2 linked regions of the Homo sapiens genome follow. The protein of the gene in region 1 interacts with the protein of each later gene in a pairwise test. Each region holds a gene or a part of one and is shown on either strand. Other genes may lie near its edges.

Evidence for each region. The genes of interacting proteins can lie anywhere in the genome.
Region 2: the proteins of MX1 (region 1) and ZNF623 interact in a two-hybrid assay, tested with the Homo sapiens proteins (one study listed by BioGRID).

What each region holds. Positions count from the first base shown.
Region 1 is NC_000021.9:41,449,583-41,457,794, forward strand, and holds part of MX1 (interferon-induced GTP-binding protein Mx1), read left to right. Parts: intron 1-1,584; coding exon 1,585-1,661; intron 1,662-3,038; coding exon 3,039-3,287; intron 3,288-8,212.
Region 2 is NC_000008.11:143,645,413-143,653,018, forward strand, and holds part of ZNF623 (zinc finger protein 623), read left to right. Parts: exon of another isoform or gene 1-1,395; intron 1,396-2,690; exon of another isoform or gene 2,691-2,993; intron 2,994-4,371; exon of another isoform or gene 4,372-4,460; coding exon of another isoform or gene 4,461-4,580; coding exon 4,581-6,071; 3' UTR 6,072-7,606. UniProt on the Homo sapiens protein: May be involved in transcriptional regulation.

The sequences.
Region 1 (8,212 bases):
GTTTATAAATCAAGGTTCTTGCGACCCATTCCTCAGGTCAACCAAGAACTCTGGAACACACTTCACTGACATTTACTGGTCTATTAGAAAGGATTTGATAAGGGGCACAAATGAAGCTGTTGGAGAGGCACATAGTAGGGGCCTGAACACAGAAGCTTCTGTCCCCACGGGGTTGGGGGCACCATCCTCATGGCACAGAGATGTGGTCATCAACCAGGGAGCTCTTGGAACCTCACCGCGGAGAAGGTTTTATGGAGGCCTCATCATGAAGGCATGATGGAGGATTGACTCAATCTCCAGGCCCTCCCTCCTCTGTGGAGCTGGAAGTTCTAAGTTTCTAGCCAAGGCTTGGTCTTTCTAGTGCCCGGCCCCAATCCTGAAGCTATGTAGGGGCCCACCAGGCATCATCTCTTCAAAACACGAGATACTCCTAAGGCTGGACATTCCAAGAGATGTAGGGGCTCTATGTTAGGAAATGGGGACAAAGACAAAATATTTATATTTTTCCTATCACACCACACCTCCCCCCTGCTCCACTGCTATGCTGGCTTCACACTCAAAATCGGCTGTTTATTTGAAATCTCCGAGGAGTAAAGCCAATGGTTCCATAACTGCACGTGTAGATGTGTTTGGAACCTTTTGGAGTGCTGTAGGAATCTAGGTGTGTCACGGATAGGTAGGAAACTAGATCCTACTGTGGATCCACTCCCTTCTTGAAATGCTTTGCTTTCTTGGTTTTCCAGGTATTAAATCTCTATTCTTCATCCTCTCCTTGACTGACAGTATCCTTACTCACACTTCAGCTGCCTCATCTTAGCAGTAATTAATAATCACTCATGGATCCATGAACTAAGGAGCTGGAGATAGCCTCAGAACAGCTCATTCAGAGGTGTATTTCCAGTAAAATTGACCTTTTAGCCCTGATAATCATATACCAAAACCTGCAATCATGTTGTTTTGGTCCATTGTAGACTCTTAACTCATTCCAGAGGAAAGTTTATAATACTTAGAGCCTTATAGTCATAAAAATCAACATAGATATACCTATTTCTTTTTCAGAAATGTATGACATGGAGATCAATAAGAGGTTTTCAATCATAAAGATACTATACCTTGTATTACAATAAAATTCTGTGAGGAAGTAGAATAGAAATGAGTTTCAAAAATAAAAGATAAATAATATAAATTTTTTAATCTAAGAGCTTGTTCTTGTATTTTTTTCAAATGGATAATGTAGACACTCAAATTCCATTGATATATTTAAGAGTGATTTGACTTATATTAAGAGTTGTATTATAAAATATTAATATTTATAATTTAAAAGAAATTACATTCTTTGCAGCTATTTAGGATAAAAAGTTTAAATATCAAATAAATGTATGCCAGGGGTCATTTGCTTTTAAGATTCTTCCAGCAAATTATTAAGCAAAAAGAGCATGCCTTGCTTTTTCATGGTAAAGAGAAGAAGGGAGCGGGGAGAGGGGAAACTTTACTTCATACCATTTGATCCTCATATTTTTTTGCATCTTAAGAAGAGAACAAATGATCCTACCAATATTGAACTATTTTTCTCTCTTTGATTAGATATGGTCCGGCTTGCTTTCACAGATGTTTCGATAAAAAATTTTGAAGAGTTTTTTAACCTCCACAGAACCGCCAAGGTAAAACCAACCATGTGTTGTTTAAAAAAAAAAAAGAAAAGAAATTAAGCTTGACACTAGAAAATAGATTTCTTGGATGAGGATTATTTCAACTTTATTGTATACTTTTAGAACAGCAAATAACATCACTCACTAGTGCTTCTTCTGATGTTACCGGTGATGTCTGGTTAAAAGCAATAAAGGAGGGAGTGCTTAAACGCACAGAACAAGAGATCCACAGTTAGCGGAGAAGATTATCACATCTAAGGGCAATGGCTCCAAATCCAGAAACTCACTGAGGAAACTACATATAAAAATAGAATATTTCTGGCCCGAGTGGGCATGATGAGCCTGTAATCCCAGCACTTTGGGAGGCTGAGGCCGGTAGATGACTTAAAGCCAGGAGTTTGAGACCAGCCTGGCCCACATGGCAAAACCCCATCTCTACTAAAAATACAAAAAAGTAGCTGGACGTGGTGGTGCATGCCTGTAATCCCAGCTACTTGGGAGGCTGACACTTTAGAATTGATTGAGCCCAGGAGGTGGAAGTTGCAGTGAGCCAACATTGCATCACTGCACTCTAGCCTAGGCGATGGAGCGAGACCCCGTCTCAAAAAAAAAAAAAAAAACAAACAAAAAAACTTTCCATCCAGAGTGAGGAAAGAGCCTACAGGAAATGAGCCTGGGGGACAGACTGGGCCAAGAGACCAGACTTAGCCACTCTTAGAAATAGGTGTCCCCGGCACAGATGAGGAGCCTGGCCCCATGATTCACCAGCTGGAGGCCTTGGGATGTGCCACTTCCAGCCTGTGCCCCTGACTCCTCATTCATAAAAGAAGACTGATAAGGCCTTCCTCAGAAGGTTGAGATGGACGTGGAGTAAGATGTTTAGGATGCACCTGCCACTGTGCACTGTGCCTCTCCTCAAGGCCTGGAGGGTCCAGGGGTGAAGTTTCTCCTCCTCAGGTTTTGGCAACCAGTTTCTCTAAACCCCGGGAACATAAAACATAATTTTCTGACTTAAACATGGCTTTCCTGCTCATCCCTGTGGATTATCTGATGGATATGACAATCCTCGCCATCAGATATAGAAGCCCCTAAAAGAGAAAGGAAAGAAGCTGAGTTACGGGGCCTGAAAGCAAGCCTGTGCAGGTCCCCAGGCCCCGGGATGGGGGTCCGGCCCATCTGTGGCTCAAGCCTCCTGGGAAGCTCTGACCCTCAGCCAGGGCTAGAAACCTGCCTTAGATACACCAGGGCGCGGCCCAGAGGGCTGTTCCAGGAAACGTGCTGTTTCACTCACGTTGGGTAACCTGGTATTTACGGACTTCTTACCTACTTTCCTGTGACTCAGGAATTTGTGTCTTGAGGGAAACTGTATTTATTTATTTTTTACTGTAGTCCAAAATTGAAGACATTAGAGCAGAACAAGAGAGAGAAGGTGAGAAGCTGATCCGCCTCCACTTCCAGATGGAACAGATTGTCTACTGCCAGGACCAGGTATACAGGGGTGCATTGCAGAAGGTCAGAGAGAAGGAGCTGGAAGAAGAAAAGAAGAAGAAATCCTGGGATTTTGGGGCTTTCCAGTCCAGCTCGGCAACAGACTCTTCCATGGAGGAGATCTTTCAGCACCTGATGGCCTATCACCAGGTACGTCTTCGCGTGGTTCAGGATGCCAGCTTCCATTCTTTCCTTTTCTTCTGAACGCCTCTCTCTTTAGTCTTGCTCTCTCTGTAGGTGACGTTGGTCAGCTCTGTCGTTTACCTCCTTGTTAGCCTCCTGTATTAGTCCATTTTCATGCTGCTGATAAAGACATACCTGAGACTGGGCAATTTACAAAAGAAAGAGGTTTAACGGACTTACAGTTCCACATGGCTGGGGAGGCCTTCTACCATCACGGCAGAAGGCAATGGGCACTTCTTACCTGGCGGCGGTGGCAAGAGAGAGAATGAGAGCCAAGTGAAAGGGGTTTCCCCTTATCAAACCATCAGATCTCATGAGAGTTACTCACTACCATGAGAACAGTATTGGAGAAACTGCCCCCATGATTCAGTTATCTCCCCCTGAGTCCCTCCCACAACAGGTGGGAATTATGGGAGTACAATTCAAGATGAGATTTGGGTGGGGACACAGAGCCAAACCATATCGCCTTCGTAGAAGCAGCTCAACCTCAGACAGAGAGATGGTGGCTTAGAGCCAGTGACATCTGGTTTTGATGGCTGTCTAGCTCTGGCCAAGTTACTTAACCTCTCTGAGCCTCAGCTTTCTTTGTAAAATGGTGTCTCCTCATAGATTCTAGTGCATATTCCAGGAGACGAGTGTGGATGATGATAATGGATTGCTAATGGAAAAACCAAACTCTGTTAAAATATTTGAAAGAGGTTTATTCTGAGCCAAATATGAGGGACCATGGCTCTGGGAACAGTCTCAGGAGGTCCTGAGGAAGTGTGCCTGAGGCTGTCAGGATGCAGTTTGATTTTATACATTTCAGAGAGGCAGGAATTGTAGGTAAAATCATAAATCAATACATGGGAGGTGTACTTGCCCTCCCTAAAGAGGCAGGACACCTTGAAGGAGGGGGAGCTTACCGGTCATAGGTGGGTTCAGAGATTTTCTGGTTGACGATTGCTTGAAAGAGTTAAACTTTGTCTACAAACTTGACATCAATAGAAAGAAATGCCTGAGTTAAGGCAGTGTTAGAGGCCAAAGGTATGTAGATGAAGACTCTGGGTAGCAGCCTTCAGAGAGAATAAATGGTAAATGTTTCTTTTCAGGCCTTAGAGGCAGCAGGCTCTCAGTTAATCTCTCCTAGATTCAGGGAAGGCCTAGAAGGGGAGAGGTCTGACTGCATTAATGGAGATTCTCTACAGGTGCAAATTCCCCCCCCACAAAACATGGCAGGGCCATTTCAATCTGTTGGTCCTGTTACAGCCGTTTCAAAATATGTCCACAAAATATATTTTTAGGTAAAATATTTGTATTTCCTTTAGGGTCTGCAATCTGTCTTGTGATGCTATACCAGAGTCGGGTTGGAAAGTAAGCCATTTTATACTGAGTTCATGGAAACTCATCCAAGGAGATTTCATGGTTTGTGGGGTGTGTGTGACTTAACCCCTGCCTCACATGACTTTATAATATGGTATCTTACTACTCCAGAGTCTTTTTGGCCAACCTTATGATCTCAATTTCAACCTAAACTCCAAAAGGGCCTGGCTTCTCTTCCTGTTACGGCCAGGAATTCAGATTTTCAGGTTTCTCTGGGGTCCACTTGGCCAAGAGGGGGTCTGTTGAGTTGGCTGGAAGGCATAGGATTTTATTTCTGGTTTACAACAATTTCCTTAGTGCAGCATTGGAATGCAATGGTAGCAGACTAAATGGAAGCTATCGCGTAGACACATGCTTTGGTTGATACTGCACGATTCAGTTAACCTGAAGTACAATCTAATTCATCCTAGGGAAGGAGGCAGTGAACACAGACACAACTCAGGTAGAGCCCTTGGGATGTGTAAACACCTGAGGAGGTAAAGCAAATTGTAATCTCTCGGTTTATCAGATGTCCCCATTGCCTTACTATTTGGATGCTTTAAAGCAGGGCCTCTCAAACTCCACCCAGCACAGAGGCCTCCTGGGATCTTGTGGAAATGCAGATGCTGATTGCAGGTCAGGATGAAGCTGAGATTCTGCCTTTCTTTTTTTTTTTTTTTTGAAACCGAGTCTCACTCCATTACCCAGGCTGGAGTGCAGTGGCACAATCTCAGCTCACTGCAACCTCTACATCCTGGGTTCAAGCAATTCACCTGCCTCAGCCTCCCAAGTAGCTGGGATTACAGGCTTACCTTGCCACCATGCCTAGCTATTTTTTCTATTTTTAGTAGAGATGGACTTTTACCATGTTGGCCAGGCTGGTCTTGAACTCCTGACCTCAAGTGATCTGCCTGCCTCGGCCTCCCAAAGTGCTGGGATTACAGGCGTGAGCCACCATGCCTGGCCTCTGCATTTCTAACGGGCTCTCAGGGGTCACCATACTACTGGATAGAGGCCACACTTGGAGGAGCAAGGCTCTAAACCGAGGGTCAACATCCATTCCTCCAGACACTGGGAGCTGCATGCACGTGAGTGAAGCCAGTTAAGGGGAAGACAGGCATGCACATCAGCTTCTCCTGCAGCCAAGCTCACACCTGTCCGCTGCTTCCACTGCCTCCTAGAATGAACAGTTACCTTGAGAGTAGGTGAGGCATATACATGCACAGAATCCAAACAATAGGATGAGTGACAATGGCAGAGGAGTCTCCGAGCCAAGCAGCTCCCTGGACAGAAGCAGCCCTTCTCCGGGTTCATTTCTGTCCTCCGAGGCTGACTCATGCACTCAAAAGCTCCCATGCATATACATTTTATAATGGTTTTTACACAAAGGTTAGCAGAGGAGTGGACGTGCTGCTCTGTACCCTGCCTCTTTTGCTGTACCTGGGAGATTGTTCTGCCTCAGTTCTGATGGGGCTGCCTTGTTCTTTTCAATGGCTGCTGAGTATCCCATTTTATGGATGTGGTATATTGAGCCAGCTCCCTTTAAGCGAACAGTTTGTTTGCAGTCTTTTGCTAATGCAGGTGTGTTGCTGTGAATAGGTTTGTTTGTATATCATGTATCTGGAAGCATCAATTCCTAGAAATGAGATTCCTGGTATATTAGGATTGTGCAGGGAAACAGAACCACAGATATATGTATGTAAAGAAGTATATTTCAGCCAGGCATGGTGGCTCATGCCTGTAATCCCGGCACTCTGGAAGGCTGAGGTGGGTGGATCTCTTGAGGCCAGGAGTTTGAGACCAGCCTGGCCAACATGGCGAAACCCGGTCTCTACTAAAAATACAAAAAAATTAGCTGTGCATGGTGGCCCATGCCTATAGTCCCAGCTACTTGGGAAGCTGAGATATGAGAATTGCTCGAACCTGGGAGGCAGAGGTTGCAGTGAGCCAAGATCACACCACTGCACTCCAGCCTGGGTGACAGAGCGAGACTCCATCTCAAAACAAACAAACAAACAAAAAACAAAACAAAACAAAAAACAGAAGGAAAGAAAGAAATATATGTATATTTCAAGGAATTGGCTTCTGCCATTTTGGGAGCTGGCAAGTCCAAAATCCCAGGGCAGGCCAGCAGGAAGAGCAGGCCAGAAATTGCAGCAGGAGCTAAGGCTGAGTCCACAGGCGGAATTTCTTCTTTTTAGGGAAACCTCATTTTTCTTCTTAAGACCCTCAACTGATTGGATGAGGCCCATCCACATCATTGAGAATGGTCTCCTTCACTTAAAGTCAGTGGGTTACACATGTTACCCACATCTACAGAATACCTCCGCAGCAATACCTAGATTCGTGTTTGATGGAATCACTGGGGACTCGAGCCTAGCCAAGCTAACACATGAAACACACCATCACAGCTGGGGAAAGGATGGCTTATTTTAGACTGATAAAGATGACCCAGAGAAGGCCTGCTCCATCCACACTGGCCGCTTTAGTCTGCACTAAAGTTGTTGGTTTTTTTTGTTTGTTTGGTTTTTTTTTGGTGACAGAGTCTCACTCTGTCGCCCAGGCTGGAGTGCAGTGGCGCAGTCTCAGCTCACTGCAACCTCTGCATCCTGAGATCAAGCGATTCTCCTGCCTCAGCCTCCTGAGTAGCTGGGACTACAGGCACGTGCCACCACACTCGGCTAATTTTTGTTTTTTCAGTAGAGACGGGGTTTCACCATATTGGCCAGGCTGGTCTTGAACGCCTGACCATGTGATCCATCCGCCTCAGTCTACCAAAGTGCTGGGTTTACAGGCGTGAGCCACCACGCCCGGCCTTGTTGGGGTTTTTTGACAGCCTAATAGGTGAAAATGACATCTCATTACAATCTTAATTGGCATTCTCTTATGACAACAAGCTGGTACATCTTTTTGTGTGTTGAGGGTTATTTCTATTTCTTGCTCAGCAAACAGTTCATCCAGGAAGAGCTTCTTGGTGAGATAGTAGACCTCTGCGATTTCTGTTGCAGACGATCTACATTTTGTCATTTGCTTTGTCATTTTTGTCTATGGTGGTTTTAGACTATGCGTAAGTTTTCTAGAGCAGAAACTCAAGTTGGATTTGGGCCTCAGTGGTTATTGCCATACTTTAAAAGGACTTTGTCTCCCTGAGATGATAAATGAGGTGGACAATATTTTCTTTAAGTAATTTCTTATTTTAACTGTTACATGATACCTTTGGCCCATTTGGAGTTCTTTGATGTCAAGAATGAGGCAGGATCCAGATGGCAGCAGAGGTCCCAGTCCCATCCTGGAAGGGTCGTCTAGTTCCCACTGGTACTCCACACGCCCACTCAGGCACTCACTTCCCCTCTGCGTTGGGTCTTGTCTGCAAGACTCTCTTATGTTTTACCATCTAGTGCAGCCAGCACCCCCACATCACCCTCACTTTTTCTTTCTTTAAATTGTGCAGAAATATTCATCATGTCTATTTTGCCATCTTAACCATTTGGGGGTACATAGTTCAGTGGCATTAAGTACATTCATATTGTGCCAGCATCACCAGCAGCCAT
Region 2 (7,606 bases), on another chromosome or scaffold:
CAGATCGAGACTCCATCTCAAAAAAAAAAAAAAGACAAATCCTCAGACTTGAGGCTGGTAAAGTGCAGGCGCCAAGAAAGAAACTTTCTCTCAAAGCAGTCACTGTTCCTTTGGTCTCTGCTTTCAGAGAGTGGATTCTGGCTTCCCCCCTTTCCATGGCAGAGCCTCAGATATCATTGTTTCGTTATAACATCTATGAGGGAAAAAGTGATTCCTGGCTGGGAGCACCATGTGTGGAGTGTGCACATTCTCCCCACGGCCGCCTGCTTTCCTCCACGTCCCAAAGATGTGTCCATTAGGTGAATTGGGGTGTCTCCTTGGTCCCAGCATGAGCGAGTTTGGGTGTGTGAGTTGCCCTGTGGTGGGACCCTGTCCTATCCGGGGCTGGTTCTCACCTCGCACCCTGAGCTGCCAGGATAGGCTCCAGCTACCCAGAACCGTGCATTAAAATAAGTGGGTAAATAATTATCTTGTTTTTCTTAATTTTTTTTTTTATGGGAGATTTTCCAGTAAAAACTGAGAAACCTGCTAGACATTCTAAAAGAGCTGTAGCAAGCACTGTTAATCTTTCTTTAAGGTAAGGTATGTATAACTCACATTTATTTCAGTGTTTAATACTAGAAGTGTTGGAGCTTTTTTTTTAATTAGAGACAGGGTCTCACTCTGTCACCTAGGTTGGAGTTCCATGGCATAGTCATGGCTTACTACAGCCTCAAACCTCTGGGCTCAAGTGATCCTCCTGACTTAGCCTCCCAAATAGCTGGGACCACAGGTATGCAACATCACACCCAGCTAAATAAAAAATTGTTTTTTAGAGATGGAGTCTTGCTATGTTGCCCAGGCTGGTCTTGGACTCCTGGCCTCAAGTAGTCCTCCTGCTTTGGCCACTGGAAATGCTGGGATTATAGGCATGAGCCACTGTACCTGGCTTATTACCTTGTATTGAGTGTATTATGTATGCATGATTAGAACATTCATTCATACAGCAGATATTGATGAAATGTATTACTTTATGCCAGAAATTGTTTGGGTTGCTGAGGATAAAGAACAGAACAAAGTTCCTGCCCACACAGCACTCACATACTTGTGGGGGAGACAACAAAACACATAGTTTGTTGCCTGTGGGGTGTGTGCGTGTGTGTGTGTGTGTGTGTGTGCATGCATGTATATATCACAATTCATTGATTCTAAGATACACTTTCTCCATATTTTAATGTCTCTGAAATTGAGTTGCCTGTTAGAATTGATGGAGTGTTTTTTGTTGTTGTTTGAGACAGGGTTTTGCTCTGTCACCCAGGCTGGAATGCAGTGGCACAAGCACGGCTCACTGCAGTCTCAACTTCCTGGGCTCAAGTGATTCTCCTGCCTCAGTCTCCCATGTAGTTGGAACCACAGGTGTGCTACCTTGCCTGGCTGTTTTTAAAAATGTTTTTTGTAGAGATGGGATCTTTCTACCTTGCCCAGGCAGACGTTGAACTCCTGGTCTCAAGTGACCCTCCCACCTCTGCCTCCCAAAGTCTTAGGATTACAGGAGTGAGCCACTGTGCCTGGCTTGATGGAGTGTTTTCATTTAAATTGGTACTTTTATTTTCCTTCATGGTTCATAAAATTGTGTCACATCTCGCAGTCGATGGCTGCTTTGATTGGGTGACTTATGATTGGTCAAGTGGTCAGAACTGTGCAGAGAAAGCAGAGGCAGGAGAGAGGGCATGCTGAGGGTGGGGGTGCCTTGCTGTTTTTTTTTTTTTTGTTTTGTTTCGTTTTTTGAGACGGCGTCTTGCTCTGTCACTCAGGCTGGAGTGCAGTGGCACAATTTTGGCTCACTGCAAGCTCCGCCTCCTGGGTTCAGGCCATTCTCCTGCTTCAGCCTCCCAAGTAGCTGGGACTACAGGCGCCTGCCGCCACGCCCGGCTAATTTTTTTTGTATTTTTGGTAGAGATGGGGTTTCAGTGTGTTAGCCAGGATGGTCTCGATCTCCTGACCTCGTGGTCCGCCCGCCTCTGCCTCCCAAAGTGCTGGGATTACAGGCGTGAGCCACCATGCCCAGCCAGCCTTGCTGTTTTATAGTGTGACTAGGAGGGACTCTGATCAGGTGACGTCAACACAGACACCTGAAGGACATCTAGGAGTGAACCCTGCAAATATCTTTGGAGTCTTTCTACGAAAGTGCAAAGGCTCCGAGGGGGCAGGGACTGCAGGGGCCAGTGTGACCAAAGAAGAGGGAAGGGGAGGGCAGGGTGAGCAGCAGGAGTCCAGGCCCAGTGGCCCTTGTGGGGCCAGAGTAGGGGATGGGAAACCTTTGTCAGTTTTGAGTAGAAAAGTGACATCTGATTTATGATTTTAAAGCGTAATTCTGCTGGCTGTGTAGAAAAGAGCTGGAGAAGGGGAGAAGTAAGCAGGTGGGAGGTGGTCACGCTTCATGGTGAAAGGCGATGGTGCAGATGGCAGCCCTGTAGGCTGTGGGCGTCTGGCGCTGGGCATGGTTTTGAACAGATGTGGAGTGTGAACAAAGGGAAGAGGATTCAAGGGTTATTGCAGTGTCTGTGGCCTGAACAAATGAGATAATGGAGAAAACTATAGAAGGAGGAAAATCAGAAGTGAGGCTGGACGCATTAGGGTTGAAAAACTTCTGAGAGCATCCAAATGAAGGTGTTGGGTGAGGAGCTGGTCAGGTGTTGGGGCTGGAAAGAAGGCCAGGTTGGAGGCAGGCATGTGAGTGTTCAGCATAGATGGCGTTGGTGTCTGATAATGAGTGCACTCCCCTCTGTAATGGACAGAGATGAGGGCTGAGCCCTAGACACGCCAGGGCTTTGAGGCGTCAGGGGACACTGGGAGGAGCTATCAGTGAGGCGGGTAGGGAACAGAGAAAGGCTGTCCCAGATTCACATAAGGAGAGTGACTTCTGAAGGAGCGGGGCTGTGTCAGTGCCACCGCAGGTTGAGTTGGAAGTGTGGCCATAGCTGACCCCTGATATGGTGACGTGGATGTTTGGGGTGAGAGCCCTACTGTAGTAGGCTCAGGGGAAGGAGGAAATGGAGAAATCGAGCGTGGGGTGGGGGCTCTTTGAATGGGGCTGCGGAGGAGGAGAGTCATGGGGTAGTAATTGGTGGGACATGGGGCCCATGACGTGCATTTTTCAGGTCGCTGGGAACTGGCGCACTTCTTCATGCTGAGGGGAGTGGTGGGCTTGGAGGGCAAGGACTTCAGGATGGAGGAGAGGGATGGGTGCTCAGGTGCTGTCCCTGCATGTGTGAGAGGGAAAGGGAGCTCACACACAAGTGGAAGTGTTGCCTTTAAGTCAGAACAAGGGCAGTTTAACCCAGGTAACAAGCCTGGCAGAGGATGGGTGGAGATACAGGCTGGCAGGAGACGTGGGAGGCAGTGGATGTCCTTGCCTGATTTCTTCTGTTTTCTCATTGAAACAAGAAGCAAGGTCACCAGTGGGGAGGGAGGAGGGAGTGCTGAGTTTGTAAGAAGATAGGAGAAGTGGAAGGTCCTGTGGGGAGTGGGAAGGGTAGGAGTTGCTGGCAGCTCTCAGGCCCCATTAGGCAAGCAGCTCTGAATTTAAAGAGCTCAGTCAGCTGGCTGGATGTGGTGGCTCACGTCTGTAATCCCAGCAGTTTGGGAGGCCGAGGCGGGCAGATCACGAGGTCAGGAGATCGAGACCATCCTGGCTAACACGGTAAAACCCCGTCTCTACTAAAAATACAAAAAAATTAGCCGGGCGTGGTGGCGGGCGCCTGTAGTCCCAGCTGCTTGGGAGGCTGAGGCAGGAGAATGGTGTGAACCCAGGAGGCAGAACTTGCAGTGAGCCGAGATTGCACCACTGCACTCCAGCCTGGGTGACAGAGCGAGACTCCATCTAAAAAAAAAAAAAACAAAAACAAACAAAAAAACAGCAAGAGTGCAGGCACAAATCAAAACACAACCTCGTTTTAACCAAAGGTTGGGCTTTCCCATCCAAGTATCATGGAGGGAGGAAAGGGCAGGGGAGCCCGATTCTGTGCAGGAGGGTGATTCTCATGCAACTTACAGTGAACACAGTGCCCCAGATCATGGGCTCTAAGCTAGGTATGGAGGGGAGAAGAGGACATGAAGGAAGGAATGAGGAACAGTGAAGAGGTGGCAGGGCTGATGTGTTTATACGTTTGTTTAAAGTATCTGTCTCGGTTTTTTAATGGAGTTCAAGCATATCCCCACCCCTCTGCAACTCATCCAGGATTCACTAATGGTCAGAGGAGTGTTGTGCACCACAGACCAGTCTGTCCTGGTGTTGGATGTTAAAAGTGGAGCCACAAAGAAGCCATCTTATGTGGGACAGGCTTGGGTGTGAGACCAGAGCTGTGGGTAGCAGCATGTTGGGTCAGGATGAGGGGCAGAGGAAACACTTTCCACCTCTTGGATATGGATTTTATCCTGCCCTGATTCAGGAGATCCCCATCTGTTAAGTAAGGGGAAAGATGATTTTGTTGTCTTTTGTTTCAGATTCTAATGTAGGAACTGGTGAGAAGAAGGTGACTGAAGCCTGGATTTCTGAGGATGAAAACTCACATAGGACGACGTCAGACAGACTCACGGTGATGGAGCTCCCCTCTCCCGAGTCTGAGGAAGTCCACGAGCCCAGATTAGGGGAGCTCTTGGGAAATCCAGAAGGTCAGAGCCTGGGGAGTTCCCCCTCTCAGGACAGGGGCTGCAAGCAGGTGACAGTGACCCATTGGAAGATCCAGACAGGAGAGACAGCTCAAGTGTGCACCAAGTCAGGAAGAAACCATATTCTGAACTCAGACCTTCTTCTGCTTCAGAGAGAGCTCATAGAGGGGGAAGCCAATCCTTGCGATATCTGTGGCAAAACCTTCACGTTTAATTCGGACCTAGTTAGGCATCGGATTTCGCATGCTGGGGAGAAACCTTACACGTGCGATCAGTGTGGGAAAGGCTTTGGCCAGAGCTCACACCTTATGGAGCATCAGAGAATTCACACTGGAGAGAGACTCTACGTCTGTAATGTGTGTGGGAAAGACTTCATTCACTATTCAGGTCTCATTGAGCATCAGCGCGTTCATTCAGGAGAAAAGCCCTTCAAATGTGCGCAGTGTGGGAAGGCGTTTTGTCACAGTTCAGACCTGATTAGGCACCAGAGAGTTCACACCAGAGAGAGACCTTTTGAATGCAAAGAGTGTGGGAAAGGCTTCAGTCAGAGCTCCTTACTTATTCGCCATCAGAGGATTCACACGGGAGAAAGGCCCTATGAGTGCAATGAATGTGGGAAATCCTTCATAAGGAGCTCGAGCCTCATTCGCCATTATCAGATCCACACAGAAGTGAAACAGTATGAATGCAAAGAATGTGGGAAGGCATTCCGTCATCGCTCAGACCTTATTGAACACCAGAGAATTCACACCGGAGAGAGACCCTTTGAATGCAATGAGTGTGGGAAAGCCTTTATTCGGAGTTCAAAGCTCATTCAGCATCAGAGGATCCATACTGGGGAGAGGCCTTACGTATGCAATGAGTGTGGGAAGCGCTTCAGCCAGACGTCAAACTTCACCCAGCATCAGAGAATTCACACTGGAGAGAAACTCTATGAATGTAACGAGTGTGGGAAAGCTTTCTTTCTGAGTTCATACCTTATTCGACACCAGAAAATCCACACTGGAGAGAGAGTGTATGAATGTAAGGAATGTGGGAAAGCGTTTCTCCAGAAAGCCCATCTCACTGAGCACCAGAAGATCCACTCTGGGGACAGGCCCTTCGAATGTAAAGACTGTGGGAAAGCCTTCATCCAGAGCTCCAAGCTGCTTCTGCACCAGATTATTCACACTGGAGAAAAGCCCTATGTGTGCAGTTATTGTGGGAAAGGCTTTATTCAGAGGTCAAACTTCCTTCAACACCAGAAAATTCATACTGAAGAGAAGCTCTATGAATGTAGTCAGTATGGGAGAGATTTTAACTCAACTACAAACGTTAAAAATAATCAAAGGGTTCACCAAGAGGGACTCTCCTTGAGTAAGGCCCCCATACATTTGGGTGAGAGGTCTGTAGATAAGGGGGAACACACAGGTAACTTATAAAATAATTACTTTCCCGCCCAGTGAGTGATGTTTGGAAATGCGTGGAATTAGGATTCATGTGGTTTCTAAGATTTGGACATGTCAGAATTTTGTGAGTCATGGATGGGGCTGCTTTTGCAGTGGGTGCCACCTGCCACTGTGCAGCCCTACTCGGCTCAGCCCTTCTCCTCAGCTGTGAGCACTGTCCTCAGGAGAGTCACAGGGCTTGACACCTGACTCTGAGCTGGAACAGTAGGGGCAGGGAGAAGACAGGTCTCAAGAAAAGGTTTTTAAGAAGTTTCATCCCCAGTTAAGCAGAGTCCATCCTTGACTTAAATCCCTTATTACAGCACAACTGTGTATCTAATCTTACGATTTAGGAGAATGTTACCTAGGACATTTTGATGTGTTAAGTTGAAGAAAGGTAACTCGTGTATGAACCCCGAGCCATTTCCCTGTTGTCCTGAGGAGGAACTCCAGGCCTCCCATCGTGTGCCCTAAGGCCTCCTGCGTCCTGGAGCCCTGCCTCCCACTGCCTGACTTCCTGCCACACGGTTAATGCTGCAGCAACACCGACTGCTTCATCTTCCCTGTGCTCCACGTGGCTTCCTACCTCTCTCGCCTTTGTTCTTGTTGAAGGGTCTCTTCTCAGCTAATTAACTCTGAATCATGGTTCAAGACAAGCCTCAGGCATCATGTCAATGGGTGTTTCCCTCAAGCTTAGTTGGCAGCACTCTCCACACTTCTGTGGCTCAGTGATTACTGCTATTACTATATTTACTTGCATATGTCAGAATGATGTGATAGACTATCTCTGTCACTATGCTGTTGGGTTCCTGAGGACAGTGATCATATCTGATTGATTTCCATGTGTCCACTGTCTAGCACAGGGCAATAAAAAATACACCCCTAAATCTATGTGTAATTGGCATCTCTCTTGCTTTGTCCTTTCTATACTGCCATTCTAAAAATTTTCAGCTGTTGGCTGTTTTTTTTGTTGTTTGTTCATTTTGTATCAGTATAATCTACGATTCTGTTAGAAGTATCTTCTCAGCCCTGCTACTGTCTGCTGCTCCTACTTAGAAGTTGCAGGCAATATCCTGTGCACATCCACGCCCTCCTGTGTGCCACCTTACAGCTCATGCAGAACTGTCTACTTGATCTGGAGGGCATTGACACCTGGCTCAGCTGGAACAGTGGGGACAGGAGGAGGCAGGTCTCAAGAGAAGGTCTTTACTTACTTGTCTGTATCTTTCTGTCTCACTCGAAAGGCACAGTCTCAATGCGCTACGTAACTCTTCTGTTGTAGCAGTTCTGAGGTTGAACTGAGCTCTTGTCATTTTCCATGCTCTCTGGCTCATTGTGTCATTTCAAAATGTATTGATATCTATAAGGAATAGTCCTCAATGTTGGGAAAACAGATGAGCAACCCACTACCCTGAAGTCATCCACCGTGTAGTGGGGAAGACGGAGATCACAGTAGGGTGAGTTAAGTATGTGCCCTCAGGTGTGAAGGAGCACAGGTGAGGGGGTGCCTGCTGTGGCACAGAGCTGGG